Linked DNA regions of Homo sapiens: regions 2 and 3 are each linked to region 1. The links come from fine-mapping of genetic effects on gene expression. A gene starts in region 1. Each other region holds a variant in brackets. All regions are shown on one strand. Distances are between the middles of the regions. Region 1 holds the start of USP33 (ubiquitin specific peptidase 33). Region 2 overlaps MIGA1 (mitoguardin 1). Region 3 overlaps ZZZ3 (zinc finger ZZ-type containing 3).

Evidence for each region.
Region 2: its variant is fine-mapped to the expression of USP33 in whole blood (INTERVAL, PIP above 0.99).
Region 3: its variant is fine-mapped to the expression of USP33 in neutrophils (BLUEPRINT, PIP 0.91).

What each region holds. Positions count from the first base shown.
Region 1 is chr1:77,754,988-77,763,061 of GRCh38, reverse strand. It overlaps USP33 (ubiquitin specific peptidase 33), which reads left to right and starts at 3,210. Exons shown (of 24, transcript NM_201624.3): 1 at 3,210-3,419. RefSeq lists a silencer at 3,021-3,300 and an enhancer at 6,614-6,663.
Region 2 is chr1:77,786,867-77,795,108 of GRCh38, reverse strand. All of the region lies in intron 2 of MIGA1 (mitoguardin 1), which reads right to left. Among named protein-coding and RNA genes, the nearest start is that of MIGA1, 11 kb to the right of the region's middle. The variant AAC/C (reference allele first, on the strand shown) is at 3,548.
Region 3 is chr1:77,654,517-77,662,758 of GRCh38, reverse strand. The region is part of intron 1 of ZZZ3 (zinc finger ZZ-type containing 3); the gene reads left to right. Among named protein-coding and RNA genes, the nearest start is that of ZZZ3, 24 kb to the left of the region's middle. RefSeq lists an enhancer at 156-655. The variant TG/G (reference allele first, on the strand shown) is at 4,580.

The sequences.
Region 1 (8,074 bases):
AATAGTGGCATTAATGATGTCTGGGACTCTCTTGTAATATCAATGCAAAGGAATGTTACTAATTCTTTCTCCCACCAATCCTCTTCAGAAATATTGCCAACTATCCACTCAGGGGACAAAACCACCCCCAGTTGAGTGCCAACAAGTTTTTGAGTCCTTCAATGCTAGGCTCTGGGAATATTGTGAATAAGATAAATACTCACTGCTCCCATTGAGGAGTTCAGGAGAGACAGGCAAAAAATTAAGTATACCAAAAAATTTAAGATAATTACAAATTATAATACATTCTCTAAAGGAAGCAAGCAGGATGCTGAAACCGGAAATAATGGGGTAAAGAGTTCTGTATTAAACAGAGAATATCTAGGTAGGAGTTAGCCAGGTGAAGGAAGGATAGAGGTTGGGAGTATCTGTAAAATTGTCTCTAAGGAAACAGCATTTACAAAGCTTTATTTAGTCTCAGGTACATAAGCACCAAAATGTATATTTTCTACGTTGCTATTTTTTACTTGCCATTACTCAGTTACAAAAATGAGAAGGTATTTGTTTTTGATAGGACCATTCAATTGTCTTCCTCCCTCCCTGTTTGTATCTCTCCTTCTTTTCTTCTTTTTCTTCCTACTCTTCATTTCTTCTTTTTTCTCCCTTTCATTAGAAGAGACTTCTTTTCTTCTTTTTCTTCCTACTCTTCATTTCTTCTTTTTTCTCCCTTTCATTAGAAGAGACTTCAGTACCTGGCCTGATGCACAACTCTAAGTCATACTATTTACATTATATTCTCCATGAACGGCACCTCTAGAATTCTGTTCCAGAATCAGTATGACTCAGCTGGGTGTCCACACACCCTCTAGAATTCTACTCCAGAATCAGTGACTCAGCTGGGTGTCCACACTTTGGAATGTATAATCTATTCTCTCAAGGGGAAGTTGATTGATTTATTTCCTAATGATAGTGTTCTTCCTTATAAGCCATTATAAGCCATCAGGAGATATTGTTTGAAGAAAAGTAAAAGATAAGCAATCTGGACTGTGGGATGAAAGGATAAACACCCAAGGGTGGGAGGCAGGAATTCACGGAAGTTAAAAGTGGGAGAGGTATTACATTATATTCTATCAGAGTGAGTTTGTTTTGTGAGAACTTGTCCACTGCAAGGACTTCACTTGGTGTCCACCTGAGAAGTACTTGCCTACTATTATCTACGCACTAGTCTCAAACTCCCGATCTCAGGTGATCTGCCCTGCTGGGCCTCCCAAAGTGCTGGGATTACAGGCATGAGCCACCGCACCTGGTGATCTTGAACAGCCTTGTCAGTTGTCTTCCTTGCATTGACACTGCCCTAGAACTCCTCCAGGACAGGTAAGCCCAGAGAGAACCTTGGTTACTAAGCAGGATGGTGGTGGGACTTGGAGGCTGAATTGAATTTGCTAGGACACTGTAAGAACAGAATACCCCTGATACATTTTCAATAGAAGAATTTCTGGGGAAGTGACTTTTGTCTATTTTTCTATTTGGTCGCCTGTTTTTTTAAAAATTGATTTCTGGAAATACATATGGAGTTGAGCCCCTTTTCAATTATATGTATTTCAAATAAATTCTATTTGCTGGCCTAACTTTTCTTCTCTCTCTGTCTCTCTTCTTTTTTTTTCTTCTGTAGATCTCCTCTGTGGACAGCTTTTTTTTTTTTTTTTTTTTTTTTTGAGACAGGGTCCTCCTCTGTTGCCCAGGCTGGAGTTCAGTGGCTCTATCTTGGCTCACTGCAACCTCTGCCTCCTGGGTTCAAGTAATTCTCCTGCCTCAGCCTCCTGAGTGGCTGGGATTACAGGCACGCGCCACCACACCTGGCTAATTTTTGTATTTTTCGTAGAGATGGGGGTTTCACCATGTTGGTCAGGCTGGTCTTGAACTCCTGACCTCAGGTAATCCACCCGCCTTGGCCTCCCAAAATGCTGGGATTACAGGTGTGAGGCTCTGTGCCCGGCTGGAGACAACTTTTCATCTCCTAACGGCATCTTTTTTTTTTTTTCCCAGAGAATATCTCACTTTGTCACCCAGGCTGAAGTGCAGTGGCACAATCATGGCTCACTGCAACCTCAAACTCCTGGTCTCAAGTGATCCTCCACTCTTAGCCTCTTGAGTAGCTGGGACTACAGGTGCCTGTCACCATGCCTGGCGAATTTTTGTATTTTTAGTAGAAATGGGGTTTCGCCATGTTGCCCAGGCTAGTCTCGAACTCAAGTGATTCACCCGCCTCGGCCTCCCAAAGTGCTGGGATTACAGGCATGAACCATGGCGCCTGCCTGTGAAACTTCTATTCTGTGAAATTTCTATTCTCCTCAGTGAACCGAGGATAGGCAATCATTTGTGGTGCAAATTGAGGCCTGAGTGTCAATCCCTACCTAGAATTTTGTATCATGGTTAATTTATTTCATTTTTACCATAAAAATAAGTAGAAGCTTTTATATTTTCTACCTATTCCAATGGAGACTGAGCATCTTGCATGATACTTTGGTACATGCTCCCATTTTGGAGACCAAAAAGTCAGATGTCATGAGACAGATTGAAACTGGCAATTTTAACAATTTTTTATTAATATAACCTTTTTTATTCATAGATTTGAACCTCAATCGAGTGCATTTTAACAGTTACATAATTAGAAGGCAGGACTCCTTCCATGCTCCAGGCATTAAGCAGATACTAAGGTTTCAATAAATATTTGATTTGATCCTCTTGATTTTAGCCTAAGGAGAAAATGGTGAGATAAATTTCTTCTTTGCATAGGTGGAAAAGGGAAACATAATTGCTTTCAGAGAATCTAGGTCCTAAGAAGTTGGGGGAAGAAAGATGAAAGGAGGAAATACAATGTTGAATTGGGATAAGTTAAGTCTAATATTTCTTTGCTCAAGTTTGGAAACCTGAGGCCCTTCAGTGGCCAGCCTTAATGCAGTTTTTGTAATGCATCGAGACAAGACCTTATAATGGTCGTAGTGTGTGACTGTGAAAGAGAAGGAGAAAACATGTGAAAAACGAAAAAAAAAAAGCTCACAGCCTCAAACTGCTGCACATACCCTGTACAGTTAGTTTGCAGTCAGAGTAGGGAGCCGGCCTGGGTCCCCGCACCTGGGCCTGGCTCCCGTGGCCCCGCCCCTGGGGCGGGCTCCCATCGAGGCTCCGCCCCCACCTCCCCTATCGCCGGAGACGCCTGCGGCGGCCCCGGAGACACCGGAAGGAGCCGCGGCTGCTGCGGGAAGTGGCCAGTTCAGGAGGCGGACCCCCCGAGGGCAGCGCTGCGGGGCCGTTTTCCGGCCCTCCTGACGCGACACTGCCCCTCTCCGAGAGCTGAGAAGGAAAAGAGGAGCTTGCGGAGGTGCGGCTGCAGGCCGTTGTTGGTCGAGCTGGCGGGTCCCGCGGGCCAGGCCGTGGAGGTGAGCGCGGCGCTGCTGGGAGGGGCGCGGGGCCCAAGGGCGTTTCGCTCGCGTCCGGGGTCCGGTCTCTGTTCTCGCTTCCGCGCGCTGGGGTTGCGGCCGCTGCAGCAGCCTCTTTTTCTTGGTCCTGGGTGGCGGCGGGTTCGCGGGCGGGAAGAAGGCCTTGGCCCCTCGGTGCTCTGCGTTGCAGAGATAATCTAGTGGTCGCCCTGTCAACGGTCGGTGGAGGATGGGAACCGGTCGTTGATTTGAGGAAGGGTCCTCAGGGGTTCTTCCCTGGAAGCGGGAGGTGCAGGTGAGCCCGAGAAGCGGGGGCTCTGCTCCCTTCCTCGGTCTCCCCACTCAGGCTTGCCAGTCCCTCTCAGTGGGTGACTGAAAGCCCTGCAGCGCGCCGGCTCCTGGGTTCTGGTTTCGCTTTTCGGCGCTGTTGAGGGGGCCGGCCCCGTTGTTTGTTGTTGTGAACGGAAAAACCGAGGTGTCATCGTCCCTGGAATTTTTCTTCGACCAATGTTTGATCTTGACTGAGAGGTTACCCCTTACCTTCTGTCCATCTGCAGCCTTTGTTTGGATGAAAGATCCATAGTGTGTGGTTTCCCAGACCTTTACTTATATTTCTCGTATACAAAACGCTCTTCATTTGAATATTTACAGGGTTTTACGTTGAGCTCTTGGACGATGAGATTTTCCTGGGTGTTTTGCACTCAAGTACCGTTGGAGTTTACATTCTCATAGAATCAGTATTAGGCCTGGAAAATTGAGCCAGAGGGTGAAATTCTGGCAGGAGCATAGACTTAAATTGAAGGTGAATTTTACCGTAACGATCTCTAGGCCTTTTGCTTAATAACTATGTGGATGTAGAGAATTTTTAAGTTTAATCAGATTATTTTTCCTTTAAGAAAAACGTGTTACAAAAAGTAACAAGGCCGTCCTAGTTCCGTTTTTCCTACTGTCTTATTTGGAAAGGTCTGACCAAGTCACATTATCGTCATAGGCTATTTGATTTGAGCATAATACAAATATTGTTAGTGAATTCATACTATTATAAATAAGAGAGAAAATAGGAATCTTAAAGACAATGCTAGTTTTATGAAAAAATAATAGAAATAGTTACACAATGCTAGGAGCTTTGTATTATTTCATTACTTTGGCAGGATTGAAAGAAAGGTCAGGGCTGGGCACGGTGGCTCACGCCTGTAATCCCAGCACTCTGGGAGGCCGACGATCACGAGGTCAGGAGATCGAGACCATCCTGGGTAATACGGTGAAACCCCGTCTGTACTAAAAATTACAAAAAATTAGCCGGGCATGGTGGCAGGTGCCTGTAGTCCCAGCTACTTGGGAGGCTGAGGCAGGAGAATGGCGTGAATCCGGGAGGCAGAGCTTGCAATGAGCCGAGATCATGCCACTGCACTCCAGCCTGGGCAGCAGAGCGAGACTCTGTCTCAAAAAAAAAAAAAAAAAAAAAAAGGACAGTACAAAAAATATTATTGGAATAAAATATTTGACCTGATATGTGCAAGAGGGATAGTCTACTTAAGATTGCTTCCTATTTATGATCTGGTTTATGGCCAGTTTCACTTTTTTTCTGTCTTTTCTGAACTTTTTATAACTTAACAGTAAGCAAGTCTTTTTATATAACTGCAGTTTAATGACATTAGATTGTAGTAAATAGGTGATTTTAAATATTTGAAATTCAGAATTGAGATGATAATTCTTACATTTATGTAGTAGTATTAGAATTTTCTGTGACCTTTCACTTACACAGTCTTACTTGATCCTCATGCCAGTCCTCTGAGCTCCGAATGCCAAGAAATAAAGTCTTTCCCCATGACAGAAACATTTCAAGATTGTGTAAGGATCAGAATTTCGTAAAGCCTGAAATAATGTTGCCAAAGCAGCTTTTGATACAGATTGGGAATTCAGATAGATTAAGATTGGAGCACTGTGAACTATAACATATGACAAGACTGTGGACTCTTCACAAGAAAATGAAGTACATAAAATGCTGAAAGATTTTTGGTGAGAAATGTGAAATGTAACCATTTCTAAAAAGGAAGGGAATAAGTAACAGCTCTATTTAGTGTAGTTTTTAAACTTTAAAAGTGTACATGTGTCTGCAGGAACATTTTGATAAGTGGGAAAACTCCAAAGAGTGTGAGATGAGTACAGTTGCTTTTAACTATCTATAAAAAGGCACATGAATTATGTGCTATATTGTATACTGAGAACTAGTCTTTAAGAAACAATATGTATATCAAAATAAATCATGCTGTCAAATGTTCAGAAGGTTAAGTTAGGTCAATATTTTGAGTCTACCAGGACAAGGCCCTTTGGAAAACAAAAAGAATGAAACGTGGTTTCTGCCTTCAAAGAACTTGTAGTCAAGTGAGGCAATTTTTTACACAACAGTAAATGCCTTATGAGTTTTTATAAAAGTTCCTTAGGAATTTAGGTGAGGTAGACATTACTTGTGATTGGGGCTTGGTGAAGGTAGTATTTGAGATGAGTGAGCTTTGAAAGGTAAATATTGGAGGATATTTGTAATGTGAACAGATTAATGAGCTCCTTGAAGGGTACAACTTACATTTGAGAAAACATCGGTAGAACAATGTGGCTGATATTCATAGTTTATGTAAGTTAATAATAGATAAAGAAGACAAATTATGAAAGACTTCACTGAAGGTGTTTGATCAGAAGAGGTATGTGATCCACATGAAAGGAAAATGAGCTGTAACTGTTAGAAGATTGAGACTGGAAGACTGCTGGGGTGGCTTTATGTTAAGCTAGATTGTGACCATTATTTTTGTAGCCCTTATGGTTTCTCTGAAGTGCATCTTGAACTTGGACCTGAGATGACATGGGTGCAGGTGAGATGCTATAAAGCACAAGTGAGGAAGCAGGTAGAATCAGAGAAGGAGGAAAAAAGGTTAATAGTGGAAGGCCAACTGGAGGCTGCTTAAGCCTTTGGAGATTTTTGTATAACTGCCTCAGAGTTTTGTATAACTGCCCCAAATGAAGGGGAGCTGGGTGGTTTTCCATCTACAGTCAATCCTCACTGATAAAGATTGCCTTTATCTAAAAGGCTCCCAGAACTTCCCAGGTACACTGGTTAGGTAGGGCTTGGCAAGCTCCTGAGGTGCTGGAGAGCTGAGGAGAGAAGTAGTTGAGATGGGAAGTTGTCAGTGTGTTAACTGTGCATACCAGCTACAAGTAAACATTGAAGTGAGCTGAAAGGAGATGGTCCAGGTATCAACTCTGTGTCTTAACAGGCATTCTCATTGAATAATCCAGATGTGAAATAAAAGCCTCAATTTAGATAGAGACCTAGAAGAAATGTGAGATGAAATGTGGTTAAAAAAAAAAATGCCGAATTTAGAAACTGATAGAAAGTGAGGAGGGGAGCCAGGTGCTGTGGCTTGAGCCTGTAGTCTCAGTCACTTGGGAGGCTGAAACAGGAGATTTGCTTGAGCCCAGAAGTTCAAGTCCAACCTGGGCAATATAGAGAGCCTCCCATTTCAAAAAAAGTAAATGAAAAAAGTAAGGAGGGATCTAAGATGGTACTGAGGTTTAAAAGTTAGTTAACTTGTGAAAAAGAAGGGTTGACAGAAGGACACTGACTTTCAAATTAGTTTTTTAAGGAAAGTGAAAAAATTGCATAGTATTCAGGAGAGTGATGATAAGAGTGTTGATGACCAGTCATTCAAAAGGAAAGCAGGGTGGAGACTTGAACAATGCTGCCATCCCCACAAACTTATAATGTCTGGCCCATGCTGGATTATAAGCATTTGTTAAATTAATTTCTATCCCCCAGGGCTTATCACAGTCCTGAAATACAGTAATGTGGTGAAACTATAGGGCTGAATGTGACCTAAAATAAGACCATTTCCCACAGGTTTTAACTTTTATAAAATCCTAGAAGAGGAATTTCTTATATATTTTACTTTTTTGTGAAAGGGTCTCACTCTTGCCCAGCCTGGCGTGCAGTGGTGCGATCTTGGCTCACTGCAACCTCCACCTCCTGCGTTCAAGCAGTTCTCACCACTCAGCCTCTGGAGTAGCTGAGATTACAGGCGCACGCCACCATACCCAGCTAATTTTTGTATTTTTTGGTAGAAATGGGGGTTTCACCATGTTGGCCAGGCTGGTCTCAAACTCCTGACCTCAAGTGACCCTCCCACCTTGGATTCCCAAAGTGCTGGGATTACAGGCATGAGCTGCCATGTCTGGCTGGAATTTCTTATATTTTTTATGGAAGCATTACTGTGTTTAGATGAATCAGTTTTGATTAGTTTTAAAATCAATATTATAGTCTGGTAAACAATAAAAGAATTGATAATTTTTCTTATGGTGGTTCTCATTTGAATATGGTGATAGCATTTGTTTTCTCATATTCTTTCTTTCTTTTTTCTTTTTGCTCACAAGCTGAACTGAAGATTTAGGTTTTTCCATGTTTCTATGTGGTTTACATGAATATTTTTAATGACTGTTCCGTAATGCCAGTATATTAACTCTTCATCTTGCTCAAAAGTGAGACTTAGAGTGAAAATTATCATCAGCTTATTTGAGACTCTGTTAGAACTCTGTCATATTCATTAATTCATTTCTATTTCCTCTCTCTTCCAATATTTCTCAAAATTATTTCAACGAGATAAGGC
Region 2 (8,242 bases), 32 kb before region 1:
GCCTGTAGTCCCAGCTACTCGGGTGGCTGAGACAGGAGAATTGCTTGAACCCGGGAGGTGGAGATTGCAGTGAGCCGAGATCACGCCACTGCACTCCGGCCTGGGCAACAGAGCAAGGGTGCATCTTAAAAAAAAAACAAAAAACTCCTGAAGGCAGCATCAAGAAATAAGTACTAAAGTAAGATATCTTACAGTGTCAAAGTCTCTACCTCCAAACTTCTTATTTACAAAGGAGAAAAAGTGGAAAAGTGTGGCAGACACATCCTTAACTAAATGATCAAGGGGTGTGTGTGTGTGCCTTTTTTCAAAAGACAGGGTCTCGCTCTGTTGCCCAGGCTAGCGTGCAGTGTGCAATCACAGCTCACCAGAGCCTTAAACTCCAGGGCTCAAGCGATCCTCCCACTTTAGCCTCCAGAGTAGCTGGGACTACAGACATGCATCACTGTGTTCAAGTAATCCTCCCACCTTGTCATGCCAAAGTGCTGGGATTATAGGAATGAGACACCATGCCTGACCAGTGATCAAAGCTACTATCACCAGTAACAAGGCACACAGACATCATCATGTATCCCCTGATATTGTGACATCTTGCCAAAAATGCATAACTTGAATCCAACCCTGAGAAAACATAAGACACACTCAACTGAGGGACATTCTGCAAAATACCTATCCTATATATTTCAAAAGCAGCAGGTCATATAAACCAAGGAAAACTGAAAGAACTGTCACAGATTGGAGAAGACTAAGGAAACCTGACAACTAAATGCAATGTGGGAACCTAGATAAGATCCTGAAGGATATAAGGTGGAAAAAAGTAATAAAACCTAAATAAAGTCTATAGTGTAGTTAAGAATATTACTTACAAAATTAAGATTACAATGTTAATCTTAGTTTTGATAGTTGTATTAGAGTTATAACAGACATTAATATTAAGATGTTAATACAAAGCATACACGAGAATTCTATGTACAATCTTTGCAACTCTTTGGTAAATAAAATTCTTTCAAAATAAAAGTTTAAGGCCGGGCGCGGTGGCTCATGGCTGTAATCCCAACACTTTGGGAGGCTGAGGCGGGCAGATCACTTGAGGTCAGGAGTTCGAGACCAGCCTGGCCAACATGGCGAAACCCCACCTCTACAAAAAATAATAAAAAATTAGCCAGGTGCGGTGGTGCTCACCTGTAATCCCAACCACTTGGGAGGCTGAAGCACGAGAATTGCTTGAACCCAGGAGGTAGAGGTTGCAGTGAGCTGAGATCACGCCACTGCACTCCAGCCTGGGCGACAGAGTGAGACCCTGTCTCAAAAAAAAAAAAAAAAAAAAAGATAAAATTTTAGTAAAGCAGCCAGGCACAGTGGTTCACGCCTGTAATCCCAGCACTTTGGGAGGCTGAGGTGGGCAGATCACTTGAAGTCAGGTAGACCAGCCTGGGCAACATGGTGAAACCCCATCTCTATTAAAAATACAAAAAAAAAAAAAAATTAGCTGGGCATGGTGGCGCATGCCTGTAGTCCCAGCTACTCAGGAGGCTGAGGCATGAGAATCACTTGAGCCTGGGAGGCAGAGGTTGCAGCGAGCCAAGATTGTGCCACTGCATTCCAGTCTGGATGATAGAGGGAATCCTTTCTCAAAACAAAACAAAACAAACAAGCAAACAAACAAACAAAAAAAACCTCTCAGGATTCAACAGTAAAAAAAGCAAATAGGCTGGGCACCATGGCTCATGCCTATAATCCCAGCACTTTGTGAGGCCAAAGCGGACAGACTGCTTGAGCTCAGGAGTTCCAGACCAGCCTGGGCAACATGGTGAGACCCCGTCTCTACAAAAAATACAAAAATTAGCCAGGCATGGTGGTGCATGCCTGCGTCACAGCTAATGAGGAGACTAAAGTGAGAGAATTGCTTGAGCCCAGAAGATTGAGGCTACAATGAGCCGATATCACACCACTGCACTCCAGCCCGGGCAACAGAGAGACCCTGTCTTTAAAAAACAAAAAACATACAAACAAAAAAAACAGGCCGGGTGCTGTGGCTCATGCCTGTAATCCCAGTACTTTGGGAGGCTGAGGCGGGCAGATCACCTAAGGTCAGGAGTTCAAGACCAGGCTGGCCAACGTGGTAAAACCCCGTCTCTACTAAAAATACAAAAAAATTAGCCGGGCATAGTGCTGCATGCCTGTAATCTCAGCTATTCAGGAGGCTGAGACAGGAGAATCACTTGAACCCGGGAGGCAGAGGTTGCAGTGAGCTGAGATCGCGCCACTGCACTCCAGCCTGGGCTACAAGGGTGAGACTCCATCTCAAAAAAAAAAAAAAAAAAAGCAAACAATCCAATTTAGAAAATGGGCAAAGGACATGAAGAGACATTTCATTTCATTGAAGATGATATACAGATGGCAAACACACACAAACCCAAGAAGATGTTCAACATCATTAGCCAATTGGGAAATGCAAATTAAGACCACAGTGAGATACCAGTACAAAACTATTAGTGTAACTGAGTATTTCAGCTTTGAAATGCATTTTAAAACTTTTTTTATCCTTTTTCTCTAGTCTTAAGATGTAACCTTGAAACAAACTGTAGAAACTTTGTGTCCTAAGTCTTAAAATATGGCCTTGAAATCTTCTTTGAACTCTGCTCCCCTCTCTTTCCCACCAGACACTCCCTTGCACCATGCACACTTACCTAACTGCATGCTTGTTAAGAAATTCCAGGGGCTACAACAACCCAGGCAAAAAGACCCAGCGGTGGAATGAATTCTCCTCTACAGGGAGATTACCTCAAAACTGATAATCTGTAACTCAGCAGCAAATAAAATGGCACCAGCCTGTACTCCAGGCAGACAATAATTCGAGATAGTCCTTGGAACAACACATAGGAACCTGCATCCTGTGTTACTCTTATGTTTCCCATACCAAGTCTCCTCTTTTTAAACCCCTTCCCTCAGCCTAACACTTGAAATGGTCTTTTGGAGACATAAGCCTAGCCTATCCCAACTGCTAGCATTTCAATAAAGTTGCTTTCCTTTCACCACTCTTTCTTTCTCATGTTTTGGTCCTCAAGCAGTGAGCAGCCAGACTTTTGTTCAGTTATATTAGAACATCTAAAATAATTATTTTGAAGTGACAATACCAAATGCTGGTGAGAATATGGGAAAACTAGACTTCTCATACTTTGATGGTAGTAATGTAAAATGATACAGCCAATAATTAATTTTGTAATTTCTTTAAAAACTAAGTATTGGGCCAGGCGCAGTGGCTCATGCCTGTAATCCCACCACTTTGGGAGGCTGAGGCAGGTAGATCACTTGAGGTCAGGAGTTCAAGACCAGCCTGGCCAAGATGGTGAAACCCTGTCTCTACTAAAAATACAAAAATTAGCCAGGCATGGTGGTGTGCGCCTGTAATCCCACCAAATCAGGAGGCTGAGGCACAAGAACCACTTGAACCCAGGAGACTGAGGTTGCAATGAGCCAAGATCACACCACTGCACTCCAGTCTGGGTGACAGAGCAAGACTCTGTTTAAAAAAAAAAAAAAAAAAAAA[AAC/C]TTAAATATCTACTTCTGAGCATTTATCCCAGAAAAATAAAAACATGTCCACACAAACACCTACAAGCAAATGTTTAAAGCAGGTTTATTTTGTAATATTAAATGACCCTCAGTAAATGAATGGTTAACAAATTGTGGTACATCCATACATACCATGGAGTACAAAATAAAAAGGAACAAACTGGTAATACATTCAACAGCTTTGCTGGAACTCAAGGGCATTATGCTGAGTGAAAAAAGGCCAATTTCAAAAGGTAACAGCCTGTGTGACTCCATTTATATAGCAGTTTTTTGTTTTTTTTTTTTTTTTTTTTTTAAGAGACAGGGTCTTGCTCTGTTGCCAGGCTGGAGTGCAATAATGCAATCAGAGCTTAATACATCCTTGAAATTCTGGGCTCAAGTGATCCTCTCTTCTCAGCCTCCTCAGCTAGAACTATAGGCACCTACCACCATGCCCAGCTTATATTTATTTTTATTTTTGTAGTGACAAGGTCTCACTATATTGCCTAGGCTGGTCTCAAACTCTTGGTCTCAAGCAATCCTCCTGCCAGCCAAAGTGCTGGGATTACAGGAATAAACCACTGTTCTCAGCCTTATATAGCAGTCTTGAAATGACAAAACTATAGATGGAAAACAGATTAGGGTTCACCAGGGATTAGGAATGGTGCGAGGGGCCAGGCACAGTGGCTCACACCTGTAATCCCAGCACTTTGGGAGGCTGAGGCGGGTGGATAACTTGAGGTCAGGAGTTTGGGACGAACCTGGCCAACATGGTGAAACCCCATCTCTACTAAAAATACAAAAGATTAGCCGGGCATGATGGTGGGCACCTGTAATCTCAGCTACTCATGGGGCTGAGGCAGGAGAATCGCTTGAACCTGGGATGTGGAGGTTGCAAGTGAGCCAAGATCGCACCATTGCACTCCTACCTGGGCAACAGGAGCAAAACTCTGTCTCAAAAAAAAAAAAAAGGAATGGTGCAAAGAAAGGTGGGGGCCGGGCGCAGTGGTTCATGCCTGTAATCCCAGCACTTTGGGAGGCCGAGGCGGGCAGATCACGAGGTGAGGAGATCAAGACCATCCTGGCTAACATGGTGAAACCCCGTCTCTACTAAAAATACAAAAAATTAGCCGGGTGTGGTGGCGGGAGCCTGTAGTCCCAGCTACTCAGGAGACTGAGGCAGGAGAATCACTTGAACCCGGGAGGCGGAGCTTGCAGTGAGCTGAGACTGCGTCACTGTGCTCCAGCCTGGAGGACAGAGACAAAAAAAGAAAGGTGTGAGTGTGATTATAAAGAGGATGCAAGAGGTAAATCTTTAAGGTGATAGAAGAGTTCTGGATCTTGATAGAGGCTGTGGTTACATAAATCTATGCATATGATAAAATGGCTTGGCATAGAATTATATACATACATTGTCACTGTCAATTTCTTGATTGTGATATTGTACTATAGTCATATAAAATGTAACCATTGGGGGAAATGGGATAAAAGGTACACTGGGCCTTGCTGTATAATTTTTGCAACTTCCTATGAATCTATAATTATTTCAAAATAAAGTTTTTAAAAATAAGCTGTACCAACCTAGTTTCTAATCCAGAATAATTCAAACCAAAGAACTTTTGGGAGGGTTTTATAATTGGATTGTTTTCCTTCTCACAACTATTCACTGTAATCTGAATTGACTCATGGTACCTAGTTTGTTGTCTTTATCATTTTACACTAAAGGGGTCCTTGAAGAAGTGGTTGATTCTAGGTATGGAGCAGGAAAAGTACAAGATAAGCCTGTGCCATTTTATACTAGATAGCAAGGATTACGAGGGTTTTATCAAGAGCACTCAGGAACCAACCTGAATAGACTCTCACTGGCCAAATATGAGATCATTTGAGCATAAATAAGAATAAATAAATGCAATGGTTTAAAACATCAAATACAATTAAATCCATAAGATCAAAACGATTTTTAAAAAACTTTCATTGATTGGCTGTGAAGGATACTACAGAACCATCTTGTTATTTTAAAATCTGGTTAAAAAAAGAGAAAGAGAGAGAAAGCCAAACACGGTGGCTCACACCCATTATCCTAGCACTTTGGGAGGCCAATACGGGAGGATCGCTTGAATCCAGGAGTTTGAGACCAGCCTGGGCAAGATGGTAAAACCCTGTCTCTACAAAAAATAAAAAAAATTAGCTGGGTGTGTTGGTACACTCCTGTAGTACAAGCTACTTGGGAGGCTAAGGTGGAAGGATCACCTGAGCCTGGGAGGATTCAGCTGCAGTGAGCCATGACTTACTGCCGGGATTTGCAGCCCGGGCAACAAAGCAAGACCTCGTCTCAAAGAAAAAAAAAAAAAAAAAAAAGCAACCGCCCCCCACAATTCCATTTAGATTATTATCCAAAAGAATACAATACTTAGGAATTAACCAAAGATGTGAAAGACTTCTACAATTTAAAAATATATATATATACACGTTGCTGAAAGAAATTAAAGAAAACATGAATAAACAGAAACACATCCCATGTTCATAGATTAGAAGACTTAACATTGTTAAGATGTCAATACTACCCAAAGCAATCTACAGATTCAATGCAGTCTCTATCAAAATCCCAATGATTTTTTGGCAGAAATAGAAAAACCCATCCTAAATGTCATACGGAATCTCAAGGGACTTAGAATAGCCAAAATAAACTTGAAAAAGAAGAACAAAGCTGGAGGACTCACATTTCCTAATTTCAAAACTCACTATAAAGCGACAGTAATCAAAACAGTAAGGTACTGGCATCAAGGGCACAGAAATAAAACCTCACATATATCATCAAATGATTTTCCACAGGGGTGCAAGACCATTCAGTCGGAAATGGAGAGTTTTTTCAACAAATGGTATAGGGAAAACTGGACCCTTACCTAATAATACATACAAAAATTAACTCAAAATGGATCAAAGACCTAAATATAAGTCCTAAAACCCTAAGAAGCTTCACAACATCGGATTTGGCAATGACTTCTTAAATATGACAATGAAGACACAGGCAACAAAAAAAAGATACAAACAAGACTTGATGAAAATTTTAAAATTTTGTGCATCAAAAGACACCATCAACAGAATAAAAAAGTAATTCACAGGGTTGGGCACCGTGGTTCATGCCTGTAATCCCAGCACTTTGGAGGCCAAGGTGGGTGGATCGCTTAAGGTCAGGAGTTCGAGACCAGCCTAGCCAACATAGTGAAACCCCGTCTCTACTAAAAATACAAAAATTAGGCCAGGTACACTGGCTCATGCCTATAATCCCAGCACTTTGGGAGGCCAAGGCAGGCGGATCACTTGACGTCAGGAGTTCAAGACCAGCCTGGCCAACATGGTGAAACCCCATCTCTATTAAAAATACAAAAATTAGCCAGGCATGCTGGCACATGCCTATAATCCCAGCTACTTGGGAAGCTGAGGCAGAAGAATTGCTTGAACCCAGGAGGCGGAGGTTGCAGTGAGCGGAGGTTGCAGTGAGCCGAGATTGCGCCATTGCACTCTAACCTGGGTGAAGAAGCGAGACTCTGTCTAAAAAAAAGAAAAAATACAAAAATTAGCCAGGTGTGGTGGCAGGCACCTGTAATACCAGCTACTCGGGAGGCTGAGGCAGGAGAATTGCTTGAACCCAGGAGGCAGAGGTTGCAGTGAGCCAAGACTGCACCACTACACTCCAGCTTGGGTGACAGAGTGAGACTCCATCTCAAAAAAAAAAAAAAAGAAAAGAAAAGTAATTCACAGAATTGGAGAAATATATGGAAATCATATAACTAACAAGGAATTAATATCCAGACTATACAGAGAACTAAAACTCCACGAGAACAAAACAATTTCAAAAATGGGCAAAGGGGCCAGGCACAAGTGGCTCACACCTGTAATCCCAACACTTTGGGAGGCGGAGGCGGGCAGATCACCTGAGGTCAGGAGTTCCAGACGAGCCTGGCCAGCATGGCAAAACCCTGACTCTATTAAAAATACAAAAATTAGCCAGGTATGGTGGCAGGCGCCTGTAATCTCAGCTACTCAGGAGGCTAAGGCAGGGAGAATTGCTTGAACCCAGGAGGCCGAGGCTGCAGTGAGCAGTGAGATTGCACCACTGCATTCCAGCCCATGCAACAGAGTGAGATTCTGTCTTACAAAAAAAAAAAAAAAGGGCAAAGGACTAAAATATACATTTCTTCAAAGGATACATATAAATGGTCAATAAGCACATGAGAAGATGCTCAACATCATCAGGGAAATACAAATCAAAACCAGAAGGATATACTACCTTTGATATGGTTTGGCTGTGTCCCCACCCAAATCTCATCTTGAATTCCCATGTGTTGTGAGAGGGACCCAGTGGCAGGTAATTGAATCATGGGGACAAGTCCTTCCCTTGCTGTTCTCATGACAGCGCATAAGTCTCACGAGATCTGATGGTTTGATAAGGGGAAACCCATTTCATTTGGCTCTCACTCTCTCTTGCGGCTGCCATGTGAGACGTGCCTTTCACCTTCCGCCATGATTGTGAGGCCTCCCCAGCTACATGGAACTGTAAGTCCAATAAAGCTTTCTTTTGTAAATTGCCCAGTCTCAGGTATGTCTTTATCAGCAGCATGAAAATGGACTAATACAGTAAATTGGTACCAGTAGAGTGGGGTGCTGCTGAAAAGATACCCAAAAATGTGGA
Region 3 (8,242 bases), 100 kb after region 1:
AGTGTAGTGGCATGAATTCGGCTCACTGTAGCTTTGACCTCCTGGACTCAAGTGATCCTCCTGCTTTAGCCTCCCAAGTAGCTGGGATTACAGGCCTGAGCCACCATGTCCGGCCTGGCCTCAAATTTCTTGACATTTTTTAAGAGATTAGGCCAGGTATTTAGTGTCCCTCAGTTTGAATTTCTTGTGGTTAGATTCAGGGTGAGTACACTGATACTTCCAATTCTAGTCACTACAGGGTATGTTCAAATTTCCCACCCTTCCATATTTGTGATATCTTAAGTTTTTTTGCTTCATGTTTAAAAATACCTGTTGGGTGAGGTGCATTGGTTTATGCCTGTAATCCCAGCACTTTGGGAGGCCAGGGGAGGAGGATCCCTTGAGCCCAGGAGTTTGAGACCAGTCTGGGCAACATAGCGAGAACTTGTCTCTACAAAAAAAAAGCCAGGCTGGGTACGGTGGCTCATGCCTGTAGTCCCAGCACTTTGAGAGGCTGAGGTGGGCAGATCATGAGGTCAGGAGTTTGAGACCAGCTTGGCCAATATGGTGAGACCCCGTCTCTACTAACAGTACAAAAATTAGCCGGGTGTGGTGGTGTGTGCCTGTAGTCGCAGCTACTTGGGAGGCTGAGGCATAAGAATCGCTTGAACCTGGGAGGCAGAGGTTGCAGTGAGCCTAGATCACGCCACTGTACCAGCCTGGGCGACAGAGCAAAACTCCATCCAAAACAGAAACAAAAACAATGGTACAGAAAAACCAAGTAAAAAAAAAAAAAAAAGCCAGGCATCATGGCTTGTGCCTGTAGTCCTAGCTACTCAGGAGATTTAGGTGGGAGGATTGCTTGAGCCCAAGAGTTCAAGGTTGCAGTGAGCTATGATCGTGTCACTGCACTCTAGCCTGGGCAACAGAGCAAGACCTCGTCTGGAAAACAAAAAAAATTCCTTGTTAGCAATTTGAAACTATAATCAAGAGATGAAAAGGGGGTGTCTTGTGATTTAAGAGACTCCTCTAACTTGGAAAAAGAAAGCAATTTTGAGTGCCCACTTTATGCCAGACATTCCATAATCTGATATGGAATGATAATTATTCAAGATTGGTGTGCCTTTTTCTTTCATGGAAGAGAAAAGTAGTTAATCTCTCCTCAGAGAGGTTGTAATTTTTTACCAGGTATCTAACTGCAATGCCCTTAATCATTCCTCTGTGATTAGGGCAGCTAAGTGTCAGAAAAGCCAGTATGGTATGTTTTCTAGGCTAAATAACTTCTGAGGGCCCTTTTAGTCATTGCATTGGAAATTTACTTGGTTTTTCTGTACCATTGTTTTTGTTTTTGTTTTTGTTTTGGTTTTGGTTGGAGTTTTGCTCTTGTTGCCCAGGCTGGAGTGTAATGGCGTGATCTTGGCTCACTGCAGCCTCGGACTCCTGGGCTCAAGCGATTCTCCTGCCTCAGCCTTCCAAGTAGCAGGTATTACAGTTACCCGACACTCTGCCTGGCTAATTTTTGTTTTTTTAGTAGAGACGGGGTTTCACTATGTTGGCTAGACTGGTCTCGAGGTCTGACCTCATGATCTGCCCACCTCAGCCTCCCATAGTGCTGGGATTACAGGCATGAGCCACTGCGCCTGGCCTCTGTACCATTGTTAACTGTATGGTGTTCTGAGTGATTTTCCTAAAGGGCATTCAATGATTTTTTTTTTTTTTTTTTTGCGTTAAAGCAATTAAAGCTCAATTTAATGATGGCAAATTAGGGTAACAAATGCACTTAGAGTAAATTAGGAATTTGGGTTTGAAGTTTCCTAGAAAAATATTTATAAATGAAAAATACGTGTTTGTGTTTATTGTGTGTTCATAAATGTGTGATTCTTTTTAGATCAACTATTTCTGTATATAATTGGAAGAAATAGAAATTAGTCCAGAATGGTAGAAAGCTTGAATTTGGTCATGATGGTAGTATGAAGTGTAGAGAGAAGCAGTCTGAGAGTTGGGGCCTAAAATAATAGGATAGAAGTAATGTGGCCTTCTGCAATTCCATATCTGGGTTATTCCTGAAAGGATTGAAGGCCGGGTCTTGAAGAGAGATTTGTACACCTGTGTTCATAGCCACACTGTTCACAATAGTTAAAATGTGAAAGCAACCCAAGTGTCCATTAATGGATGAGCAAAATGTGGTATATGCATAGGGAATATTATTTACCTCTAAAAAGGAAGGAGATTCTGACATGTTGCCACATGGATGAACCTTGAGGACATTATGTTAAGTGACATGAGCCAGTCACAAAAAGATACTGTATGTTTCCACATATATGAGGTATTTAGAGTAGTTAAAATCATAGAAACAGAAAGTAGAAAGGTAGTTGCCAGAGGCTAGAGGTGGGGGATATGCGGAGTTAATGTTTAAGGAGCGTAGAGTTTCAGTTTTACAAAATGGAGTTTTGGAGATGGATGGTAGTGATGATTGCATTATGAATGTATTGGATTACACTGAACCATACACTTAAAAATGATTAAGATGACAAATTTTATGTTATGTGTATTTTACCACAATAAAAAAAAATATTGGGGAGGGGAGAAGTAACTTACCTCTCACTAACGAGGCATACTCTTCTTTACCTGCTAGAAAATGAAATGTCAGCCAGGCACAGTGGCTCATGCCTGTAATCCCAGCTCTTTGGGAGGTTGAGATTGGAGGATCACTTGAGGCCAGGAGTACCACTCCAGCCTGGGCAACATAGTGAGACCCTGTTTCTATAAAAATTTAAAAAATAGCTGGGTGTGGTGGCAAGCCCCTGTAGTCCTAGCTACTTGGGAGGCTAAAGCAGGAGTATCGCTTGAGCCCAGGAATTTGAGGTGGCAGTGAGCTATTGTCCTGCCACTGCCCTCTAGCCTGGGTGACAAGAGTGAGATCCTGACTCAAAAACAAACAAACAAACAAACAAAACCACAACAACTGAGCTCTGCCTTCCCCCAATCCTCACTCCTCTAGTAATACTTTAAAAGGAACTTTTTTTTTTTTTTGGGTAATCAAAACATAGGATTCAACTGGTTTCTTTCTTTCTTTTTCTTTTTTTTTTTTTTTGAGATGGAGTCTCTCTTTGTCACCCAGGCTGCTGGAGTGCCGTGGCGTGATCTCGGCTCACTGCAACCTCCACCTCCCGGATTCAAGTGATTCTCCTGCTTCAGCCTCCTGAGTAGGATTACAGGCACGTGCCCCCACGCCTGGCTAATTTTTGTATTTTTAATAGAGATGGGGTTTTACCATGTTGGCCAGGTGGGTTTCACCATGTTGGCCAGGCTGGTCTCGAGCTCCTGACCTCAGGTGATTCACCCATCTTGGCCTCCCAAAGTGCTGAGATTACAGGAGTGAGCTACCACACCTGGATCAACTGGTTTTTTAAATTTAAAAATTGATTAAGTATATTAGAAAAATTCAATGAGATAATAAATCGAATTAAACTAAATTAAACATTTTTCTTTCATTAGTAATATTAAAACACTTAAAGCTACATTGAGTGATAGCAAATTAGTAAAGCCTATTAAGTCTTCTATGTAAAGTATGATTCAGAAATATATATTTTATATATATATGCATGATCTCGGCTCACCGCAACCTCCGCCTCCCAGGTTCAAGCAGTTCTCCTGACTCAGCCTCCCTAGTAGCTGGGATTACAGGCATGTGCCACTACGCCCGGCTAATTTTGTATTTTTAGTAGAGACGGGGTTTCTCCATGTTGTTCAGGCTGGTCTCGAACTCCTGACCTCAGGTGATCCGCCTGCCTCGGCCTCCCAAAGAAGTATATTTTAATGAACTTTCTTGCATAGTCATTTAAAAATGCATTTAGAATTTTTAACAAATGAAGCTTTATCTTAAAAGCCACCTGACAGTGTCCTTCAAGGATGGAAACATTTATATGCTGTGACCCAATAAGTCTGTTTTAAGGTAATAATCAAATGCAGACATAGAGTGTACAAGAATGTTAATCACAGCATTTTAAATAATAAATAGTATAATATCAGAAGCAGCTTAAATGTCCTAACAGAATGGAAATGGTCAAATTATAAACTATTTATACAGTTTTTATATGGCCATTAACAATTTTAGGCTGGGCGGTGTGGCTCACGCCTGTAATCCCAACATTTTAGGAAGCCAAGGCGGGAGGATCGCTTGAGCCCAGGAGTTGGAGATCAGCCTGGGCAACATAGGGAGACCTTGTCTCTACTAAAAAGAAGAAGAAGAAAAAAAAAAAAAGCCAGGATGTGGTAGTGTACACACCTATGACTATAGGTCCCAGCTACTTGGGAGGCTAAGCTGGGAGGTTCGTTTGAGCCCGGGAGATCAAGGCTGCAGTGAACAGTGATCTCCCCATTGCATTCCAGCCTGGGTGACAGAGTGAGACCCTGTCTCTAAAAAATAAAAAAATCCCAGACAATTTAGCCCTTAATTATGTGGCTTAAGTGGGGAATAAATGCCAGGATGCCAAATTAAGTGTGTGTTGTGTGAATTCTGATTTTTAAAATTCACATTGAAATAAGAATGGAAGAGAATACACTAGTATGTTGTGTTTTTTTTTTTTTTTTTTTTTTT[TG/G]AGACAAAGTCTCGCTCTGTCGCCCAGGCTGGAATGCAGTGGCGTAATCTCAGCTCGCCGCAACCTCTGCCTCCTGCATTCAAGCGATTCTCCTGCCTCAGCCTCCCTAGTAGCTGGGATTACAGGTGTGTGCCACTGAGCCTGGCTAATTTTTGTATTTTTAGTAGAGACAGAGTTTTGCCATGTTGGCCAGACTGGTCTCAAACTCCTGACCTCAGGTGATCCACTCACCTTGGCCTCCTAAAGTGCTGGGATTACAGGCATGAGCCACCGCACCCAGACCTACACTAGTATGTTAAGTGGTTGTTGAAATGGGGTAAGCTATATTTGTACTTTATATTGTGGATGTGTCTAAATTATTGTATTTTGTATAATTGTCCATTCATTTAACATTTATTGGATACTATATGCTTGTTAAATAATTTAACAATTATTTATTGGATACCTATACTTGGGGTCCTAGAACCAATCCCCCCCACGTATACTGAGGGATGACTATAGTCTGTTCTCATTATTCTTGGATTCCACGTTTGTGAACTCATTTACTGGCTAAAATTTATTTGTAACCCCCAAATCAATATGTCTGGCACTTTCGCAGTCATTTGCGGACATGTTCAGAGTGGTGAAATTTGAGTTGCTTGATGTACACATTTCCAAATGAGGTTAAACAAAATGACTCTCTGCTGCCTTGTTCTAGCTCTCTTGTCTATTTACTTAGTGCTACATCTTTCCCACTTTTTTTTTTAGAGGTGGTTTCACTGTTTAAAATTGCCCCTAAGTGTAGTGCTAAAGTGCTGTCTATAGTGTTCCTAAGTGCAAGAAGGCTGTGATGAAAAGTTATAGTGCTGTTGACTGTGAGTTCCGTGTTTATGAATCAGCAATATAAAAGTGTTTTTAGGCTGGGTGCGGTGGCTCACGCCTGTAATCCTAGCACTTTGGGAGGCCGAGGTGGGTGGATCACTTGATGCCAGGAGTTAGAAACCAGTCTGGCCAACACAGTGAAACCCCATCTCTACTAAAAATAGAAAAAATTAGCTGGGCGTGGTGGTGCACACCTGTAATCCCAGCTACTCAGGAGGCTGAGGCATGAGAATCACTTGAACCCGGGAGGCGGAGGTTTCAGTGAGCCGAGATCATACCGCTGCACTCCAGCCTGGACGACAAAGTGAGACTGTCTCGAAAAGTAAGTAAATAAATAAAGAAATAAAAGTGTTTTTAAATAAAAGTACAGATAAAACAAGGATATGTGTTGTTAGGCTGTTGAAAATGTTTTAGTCAGAGGCTAGCAGGAACTTCACTCTGAATTTCTCTTGTATTGAGTATTTGATAATTCAGTGCTCATGGCAACTTTATGAGAATCAACTATATATGATCTGTTATGGCACTTAGGGATTTTGAAATACTGAAACTAGCTTGGGAACTGCTTTACCTGTCCTGTAGATTCTTAGAGGTGACGGAGAGTCCAGCTTAGAGGTTGGTTAATATGCTGGTAAAAATTTTTGTGCCCTCTGAAGACAGTACAAATTCAAGAATTTAGAGCAATGGTGCATATCTGATAAGATTCAAGGTCTCAATATTTTGATATTCAGACCTTGACTTTGATATCAAAAGATATTTCAGGGAGGACTCTGTCCCATGAGAAATGGTAAAATATCCTAACTCATTGTGAATCTTTACCTTGATCCGTCTCCTTTAGATTATTTTATTTGCTTTTAAGACTTTTCCTAGTCTTTTTGATTGTTGTGTTGACAGAAACCATTGAGAATTCTTAAGACAGATGGAGCATGGCTTTTAGAGAGGATTAAGTAGTCATTTATTTATTACCTGTCACTGGCCTTAAAAAAAATTGACATTAAATAACATCCTTAAGGATAAGTATCACTAAATAAAATTAATGGAAATTTTGACTTTTTTCCTAAATTTAACTGACAAATTTAAAAAATATTTAAAGCAAGCCAAGAATTAAAATTTTTTGTAAGCATTTTCAAAATGCAGTATACAGTTAGGCAGCTATAAAATATATTGTTGTGAGGAAAACTGTAAGTTGATGAAAGGGAAACATTTGTAAAAATTAAATATATAGATGGATCTTTACATCAGGCATTTCACCTAGGCCTTGCTGAATTATTTATGCTTCATTTATGAATGTCCATTGAAGATGAATGGCTGTCCAGAGCTGAGATTATGTCTTAATGATAAGTACATAGTACACTGTGTGTGCTAAACTAATGTATCTTGAAATGAATCAGTCTTGCTAGTCCAATAATCATTTTCAAGTTAGTCTGTTCCAGGATTTAACAAGCTGGTTTGGACCTAAGAATGATATATGGTGCCTTCTCATCTCATTTCTTCTTCTAAGTCATAGATCAACAAAGGGATTTTTTGGAACTGAAAAGTCCAGGGTGTTTGTCTGGTTCAGGCTGAGCTAAGTCAGTACGTTTAAATGATGTCATATTAGTGCTCTGCTTCTGTTGCTCTACTGCTGACAAATTCAGCTTTATTTGTTGCTACCTGAAGGAGAGTTTTATCTATCTGCCTTGTCTGTTTGTCTGTCTCATTAGCTATTGTCTTAGTCTGTTTGGGCAGCTGTAACAGAAAACCATAGACTGGGTAGCAAATAAACAACAGCCATTTATTTCTCATGGTTCTGAAGGTTGAAAAGTCCAAGGGCAGATTAAGTGTTGGCAACGGCCCAGTTCCTGGTTTATAAGTGGCCATCTTCTCACTGTGTCTTCACATGGCTGAAGGGGCTTAAACTTGACTAAACCCAATCAAAGTAAAGGTAATTCTAGAAGAAAATTAATTTTGATCTTAAAAACCCTTTACTTGATCACATTATATAAATATTAACTCTTTTATTGGCTTATCATATGCTATGGTTTGAATGTCCCATCCAAAACTCATGTTGAAACTTAATCCCCAGTGTGGCACTATTGAGAGGTGGGACCTTTAAGACGTGATTGGATCATGAAGTCTCTGCCCTCATGAATGGATTAATGGGTTAATTGGTTAATGGATTAATGGGTTATCATGGGAGGGGAACTGGTGGCTTTATAAGAAGAAGAGAGACCTGAGCTAGCACATTAGCACGCTCAGCCTTCTCACCTTGTGATGCTCTGTGCTACCTCAAATCTCTTCAGAGAATCCTCATGAGCAAGAAGGCTCTCACCAGAGACAATTCCTTGACTTTGGACTTCTCAGCCCCTGTAACAGTAAGAAATAAATTTCTTGGCTCGGTGTGGTGGCTTATACCTGTAATCCCAGCACTTTGGGAGGCAAAGGTGGGAGGATTGCTTGAGTACAGGAGTTCGAGACCAGCTTGGGCAACATAGAACTTGTCTCTATTTAAAAAGAAAGAAAGGAAGAAATTTATTTTCCACAAATTACCCAATTTCTGGTATTCTGTTATAAGCATAGAAAAAGGAGTAAGCTTCATAGAGATGGAAAAGATATCCATCTATCTATGGAGAGGCGTGGGTACCAAACATAAGGCAATATGTAAGGCCTGATGTCAAAAGGGCCAGTTATGTTTATTTCCTATTTTTTCTTTTCGGTTTTGTTTTTTCAGTCTGTTAATATAGAGTGAATTGCATTGAACCAACCTTATGTACATGTAAGCCAGTCTTACATTTTGGGGATAAACATCATTTGGTCATGGTGTA